Linked DNA regions of Homo sapiens. The protein of the gene in region 1 interacts with the protein of each later gene in a pairwise test. Each region holds a gene or a part of one and is shown on either strand. Other genes may lie near its edges.

Region 1 (3,500 bases):
AAGTGACTAACAGTACATGTCTAAAGACCTTAAAAAGTATCGAAATTATCTTAACCATGGAAATATCCAGCTGCAAATACATGCCAAATTCCTTATCTGTAATTTTTGTAACTGAACAAACAAGCCCCTGTATTACAGCATGAAGAAGTTTTTGAAACTGAAATGTACTGCTCACTTCACAATCATGTTCTGTCTATCCTTGCTATTTAGCTTGGGGAAGGTTATCAAGTTCTGAGGAGAGGAGAAAGGAGAAAAGGAAGGGAGCCAGAAAGAAAGGGTGGGACCAAGAAGCCAAGGAACTTAAGACGAGTTAAGAACAGGTAGAAAGGCCAGGCACGGTGGCTCACGCCTGTAATCCCAGCACTTCGGGAGATCAAGGTGGGCGGATCACCTGAGGTCGGGAGTTTGACACCAGACTGACCAACATGGAGAAACCCCATCTCTACTAAAAATACAAAATTAGCCGGGCGTGGTGGCACATGCCTGTAATCCCAGCTACTGGGGAGGCTGAGGCAGGAGAATCGCTTGAACCCGGGAGGTGGAGGTTGCGGTGAGCGAGATGGCACCATTGCACTCCAGCCTGGGCGACAAGAGCTAAACTCCGTCTCAAAAAGAAAAGAGAATGGGTAGAAAGACAGAATGCTAAAACTGTCAGCAGTCCCCCAGATGGAAGACAGGAGAGAAATAATTTAAAACAACAGAAAGCCTTTTCTTTGTGGTCCAGAGAGAGGAAGAGGAGATCTGGATAAAACTGCTGAAAAATTTGGGGGCGGGGGTGAGGTGAAGAACCTAACAGTAAGTCTTGGAAGATGAAATACAACTCTGTTGATTACTGAAGGATGAACCAAATAACAGGACTGGGCCCACACAATAAAGAAGAAAAGAGGGCGGCTGGTTGTGGAGTTAAAGCAGAGAGAAGAAAAAGAAACAGCTACAGAAATTCCCCAAGGTGCAGGGTACAGGGCTGGGGAAGGTGCGAATGTTTGGGAATAAAAACAAACTTTGAAAAACAACAAAAAACAAGTCTTTTCAAAGCCTGGCCTCAGACTTAGGGTAAGTTCTCCCTGAGAGATTTAAAGGTAAATAAAGAAGAAGCAAGTTAAGACTGAAAGCTTTGACTGATCTAACAGGAACATGTGGCATTATGGTTGTAATGCCACAAATTTAGTATTTAGTATTTTGTGAAGTATTCACAAAGAAATGAACAGGATGCTGCATAATTTTTTACATTGTTTTCCAGGGGCATGTTGATGAGAAATGCTACTCCCTCCATTTTGTCCCCAGCATGTGTATGATGAATAAGAAGAGGTGGGGGCGGGGGAGAGAGATTCTTCCCATCCACCAAATGCTACCCTGATTACCCACGTCAGTCCTAACTCCTGCATTGCCCCAGGTGCCAGTCAGCAAGGCCTACGCCATTTGCTTTGCCATCTCCGCATTGTCCACTCACTTGCTCTGCCCTTCTGTCCATTTCACTGAGCTGGAGCTCCCAGCAGCAACTCTAGAAAAGAAGAAGAGGTGGGGAGTGGGGAATGGAGCATGCATGGATCTGGCAAGCCCCCCAGATCCCAGAATCCAGTGAAAAGCCCCTCAATACACAGAGACATCAAGCTAGCTATCAAGAGTGCTGAACTAAGTCCCCAGTCCCACTGGGGCCAATGGTGGGGTGGAAGGCACCACCGGAGGCTGCAAAGAGCTTGGGCTTTGGAATCAGATCTGGACTTGGCATCCCAGCTCTAGCACTTAGTAGGATGTGAACCTGGGAAGTAACTTAACCCTCTGAGCTTGGTTTACTTATCTGTAAACCAAGCAGTACTTAGCTCTCATGAGAGTGTTGGGAAGATAAGATGAGGTAACCTGGAAGGACACCTGACACGCTGCAGGCACTTCATGAGTGTTCTATGCTACTGCCCATCTCTTCACACTTGGTAGAAAATGAAAAGTGAGCTCTTTCAATGGTGAAAGCAAGTCCCACCTGCCTTCTTTTTTTTATTTTTTCATTTTTAGGTGCAAAGAGTAGCTCCTTCTGATGTTTCCTGGCTGTATTCTCCCTATTATGGTTGTATTATCAAGTATGGAAAGAAAAACCCTGTTGGTGCAATCAGGTATGGGCGTATCTGACTGTGAATTGCCCAGATCAGCATCACACAAATACAAATTTGGATCCCGGACTTTGCACACCCAAAGCACTTCTTGATAAGATAGTGGAATGGTTAACAACTGTGATATCATAGTAAAACACAATTATTAAATGAGGTTGAATAGCCTTTGAAGAATTATAAAACATTCAACAAGACCATAATAAGTGTCCTCAATATTCCTTGTTCCAGATAGAAACAACCCACATTTATGTTTTTGAAAATTTAATACTGAACACAACTCACCAACTAGGGGAAGGAGGAAAGCGTTCTAATGTCACAGAGAGCTTTGCCCTTTCTTCTAAAACTGTACTTTCTTCATAAGTTCTAAGCACCTTTGAAATGGTTCAAACAGGTATAAGTTACTGTGGAAAGGCAATGGAATAGAGAAAACCTTACCCCTTTAAGGTGGCTCCTAAGTTCATCTGATTCCAGGTCATGCATTCAAGCTGGGATGTCATTTGGTATAAATTGTCACTGTTAGAAAAACATCTAGAGTTAGAAACACATAACCACAAAATAATACACAACTGTTTCTTCAAAAGCAATGGAGTTTTAACTTTTCTTGAAAGTGCAAGCCTCCACATTTTCCAGAATGACAGAATATGCAAATCTGAATTATTTTCATTTCATCCCACTGATCTCTGCACAGTTATACACTTCATACACAGCAGAAGGGATGTGAGAGTAACTCAGAAGCATTTTTTAAAACCTTTGTATAGCAACTATTGAAGTTTCTAAAGAAGTATTAAACCTTTGAGGGGAAAAGGCTAAGGGGAGTGAAACTTTGAAAGGCAACACAGGCTGGATAACTCAACATTAAAGTTAAAAGCCTGGAGCTGAAAGTAAAGACAGCAGATTAATTATTCGTGAAAAGGCCATTAAGTTGTTTTAATCAAAAGGATAAGTATCATGTGGATTATGAGGGTCTGAAAAGTCAGAGTGATGGGTGATAAATGGTCTAAAAAGCAAGGATGTGACAAGCAGAAGAAAGACGATGATAAACTCTATGCACAGCGGAAGGAATCATTTTCTATATGTTTTATAATCCTGGTACAAGTCAAATTAAAAAAAAAAAAAAAGAGCCCAGTTCTATAAGACTCTATGAGGGAAATGGCTTATCATTTACATTAAGACTCCAAAGAAGTCTTACACCGCTATGTAAACCAACAAAAAGCTGTTCTGTCCCCTCTGTATTTATCTCATTCCTAGAAAATTAGCACATGAATCAATTGCCAGAAATCTCCTAAATTACCAAGCTCCATCAGGAATAAATTTATGCCTGAACTGAAATGGTTAATTATGAAATTTGAGACCCAAGAGACCAAGAGTTTTTCTGGGACCTCTTGGTCTAAACACTTT
Region 2 (3,500 bases), on another chromosome or scaffold:
AGAGCTGGTTACCTCTTCCAAGGGAATTCCTAGCTCAGCTTTCAGCCGTCTCTGTGCTGCTCGCCTCACTCCAAGGGCGTCACTTTCCTCAAGCTCGGCTGGATTGCTTAATGGATGACTACAACACGTATTCGTAAAACAACCTGGAAAATGGTAATACAGAGACAGATCAACTTTTCTTCAAAGTAGGTCTGAAAGATCAAGAAAAAGTTTTATAAGTAACTGAAAAATGAAATGATTTTTAAGGATTTTAAAATCAGTTATAATGGGCTATCAGTAATTATTTTAAGGATTTTAAAATTGGTTATAATGGGCTATCAGTAATTATTTTAAGGATTTTAAAATTGGTTATAATGGGCTATCAGTAATTATGTTGTGAAACAGACTACATTTGTAGGTAGGTTCCTTATTAATACTTCTTTAACCAAAAAAGATCAAAGTGTAGATAATACAGATTAAAGATAAATATGTAAATTATACATATTGCCCAATTGCTTACTAGTTCTTATTTTTTCTTGCTGTTGTATTAGGTTGCACTCATTGTGTAAACTCACTTTATGCAGAATATAAAATTATGCCATTCACAGGATTTCCCTTTGTGACCTTGGCTCCAAGAATTCAGAATGATAAAAAGTCAAATTAATGTACAAACACAATATTGTACATTAAAAGTGTACTAACCTGGAAAGGTAATCTTAGCATCTGATCTTTGCTGTAGCAGAAGCTTATTTTCGGTGTTGAATAAGAAGACACTAAAAGCTCGATGCAATAATCCTGAAAGCAAAAGAAATAACAATTATTTTAGCCTTAAGTACCAGTTATTTGCCAAATTCTCTCCCTGCAGTTCAGAATAACATTAGTAACTTGCTGCTGCTTTTGCTTTTTCCCATGGTTTATCCACATGCATAGTCTCTGCATGGCTATGGTGAGGAAGAGCTCTGCACTGGGCAAGGAAGTTGGCCGTCGAGTGAAGGAAATGGTGATGCTGGTGGCCCCTTTCCGGCAGTCAAGTTCCCTATCAAGGACATTCAGTTCTCGGAAAGTGGTGAAGGCACATGCTTCCCTGCATGGTGCCCGCCTCTCTCCACTCTCTAGAAATATTAGAGGCTAGGCTGCTGCTGTATGTCAGGGCTAGTCCCTCTTCTATGAATCCAGAATAACTCTGAAGAAGCCGAGTAACAGGCATGAAGTGAAGAGAAATCGCTGTAACAGGAAGACAGCAAAGCAGATGCTAATGACCACACTATTTAACGAACTGGAACCAACGAGAAAATACGGTATTACTGAAGACTGCACTTCCTTGAACAGAGTGCTCTTCTCAGCAAATCGGAAATGCCTACACAAATCGCTTTACAAGAAAGACTGTTTCAAAGCAGCACCTTTCTCAATGTTCTCGTTCAGGTGACAATTCTTCTTGGTCTCAGCTCCAATTTTATTGTCATTTTCATCAATAAGGATACACATCTCTGCCAGGAGTTGAACCTGTTGCTTGTCGAGGTGGTTAGTGTTTATTTCAGGCATCATTACAAAATGTCTGATCTGTTCTAGAACACTAATATTAAAGGAAAAGAGAAAGAAAGGCCATCATATATTTTTCTGAATGTCATATAAACACAGGTTAATAATGATGCTGCTTCCCCATCTGCAGTTGTACCACTCTGCATCCCCACAGGGACCCCAAGAACGCTGCCAGCCGGCTGCTCAGCACTATCTGGGTCATCATTTCTCCTACAGGTTTCACAGCTGGCCTTTTATCACAGTCATGCTCCTGAAGGCCAAGCTCAACGTTCCGCTCTAAATTCTTGACCTCTGAGATCCTCTGCAGCACTTGATACTCAATCCTTTTTCCAGTGTACTTTTCTTCTCTGGTTTTTGGCCCCAACCTAACTTTTCATCCTGCTTTTCTACACCAGCTTCTGTAATCTCTAGAATGTGCTCCCATTGCCATCCTGAATTGTTTTTCCCACTGCCTGTCTCTGCATAGTTGCTCAAGATTGCCACAGGCCAATCTTGGTTGAAATCCATTTTTTCAAGGCACAACTCGTGCCAGACATTCAATAACCTTTCTACCAATGTCACAGTAAGACTTAATCCAGTTTTTCTCAACCCAAGCTCCTGGGTTATCAGAAAAATTATTTGTATGAGTTTTGTCAATTTCCCCCAGGACAGTACTTAGCTGATATCATTCTAGATAAACAGGAGAAGACTTAATTCGTTATATTCAATAGATGCTTTAAGGCAGTGCTTGGCAAGTTTTTTCTGTGAAGGGCCAGAGAGTATGAACTCTGCCTCTGTAACACTAAAATAGTCACAGGCAATAGGTGAACTGGGCAGTATGTAAACTGAGTGTGGGTGCATGCCAATATTTATGGACACTGAATTACATTTAATTTTCATGTGTCACAAAATATTTTGATTCTTCTCCATCCGTTTAAATATGAGAAAAACACTCAGCTCACAGGACGTAACAACAGGCAGCAGGCCAGATTTGGCCTATAGGCCATAGTTGGCCCATTCCTACCTTAGTGCATCAAACATTAATTTTCTGAACCCCCATTTATCCCTCCCATGTGATTACAACGTAAAGCACTTATTAGGGTACTTTCAGTATTCTGACTCACACTTTTACATATCTGTATCCAGCAGCGTCTAAGCTTTCTAATCTTTGTATCCTTCAGGGCACCTTTACATAGTCTGACCTTGAAGTTTTTTATTCCCTTTTTTCTTCTCCTTTATTTCTGAATGAATAATAATTTTTGTTTTCTGATTTTTCTACCCAATATATTTTGAAGATCCCATGTGCTCTACTTTCTATGTGACTCTATTTCAAATACATAGATTTTACTGAAATACTTTTTTGTTTCTGAGAGGGAGTCTCGTTTTGTTGCCCAGGCTGGAATGCAATGGTGCAATCTCAGCTCACTACAACCCCCACCTCCTGGGTTCAAGTGATTCTCCTGCTTTGACCTCCCAAGTAGCTGGGACTACAGGCGTGCACCACCACGCCAGGCTAATTTTTGTATTTTTAGTAGAGACGAAGTCTTGCCATGCTGGCCATGCTGATCTCGAACTCCTAACCTCAGGAGATCTGCCTGCTTTGGCCTCCCAAAGTGTTGAGATTACAGGAGTGAGCCACCACACGGGGACCACTGAAATACTTTCAACAGAGTTCAAGCATACTGCAGAATGTACACAAAGTGTTTAAACAGCTACTTAATACAAAGTTCTAGACCCACATAGGGTCTGGGTGTGTGTGTGTGTGTGTGTGTGTGTGTGAATGCGTGTGTCAGGAGTCAGTGATGATGGAGATATTGATATCTAATACAAAAAATCTGAAATAAGGTTAATGATTAAAACAAATCAAGAGGGAAAATAATGTGAAAAGGAAGTCAACTTCAGAGTTAGCCTCAATTTTAGAAAGATTTCCAACTTCTATAGGCTAGTTTTATATACAGTCATCCTTTGGTATATATGGGAGTTAGTTCCAGGACCTCCCACAG

Evidence for each region. Proteins that work in one complex are often made in the same cells at the same time.
Region 2: the proteins of WT1 (region 1) and IDI1 interact in a two-hybrid assay, tested with the Homo sapiens proteins (one large-scale study listed by BioGRID and IntAct).

The regions. Positions count from the first base shown.
Region 1 is NC_000011.10:32,415,040-32,418,539, forward strand, and holds part of WT1 (Wilms tumor protein), read right to left. Parts: intron 2,616-3,500; coding exon 2,538-2,615; exon of another isoform or gene 2,385-2,537; intron 1,502-2,384; coding exon 1,451-1,501; intron 1-1,450. UniProt on the Homo sapiens protein: Transcription factor that plays an important role in cellular development and cell survival. Recognizes and binds to the DNA sequence 5'-GCG(T/G)GGGCG-3'. Regulates the expression of numerous target genes, including EPO.
Region 2 is NC_000010.11:1,042,620-1,046,119, forward strand, and holds part of IDI1 (isopentenyl-diphosphate Delta-isomerase 1), read right to left. Parts: intron 1,583-3,500; exon of another isoform or gene 1,553-1,582; coding exon 1,380-1,552; exon of another isoform or gene 891-1,379; coding exon of another isoform or gene 869-890; intron 775-868; coding exon 682-774; intron 144-681; coding exon 13-143; intron 1-12. UniProt on the Homo sapiens protein: Catalyzes the 1,3-allylic rearrangement of the homoallylic substrate isopentenyl (IPP) to its highly electrophilic allylic isomer, dimethylallyl diphosphate (DMAPP).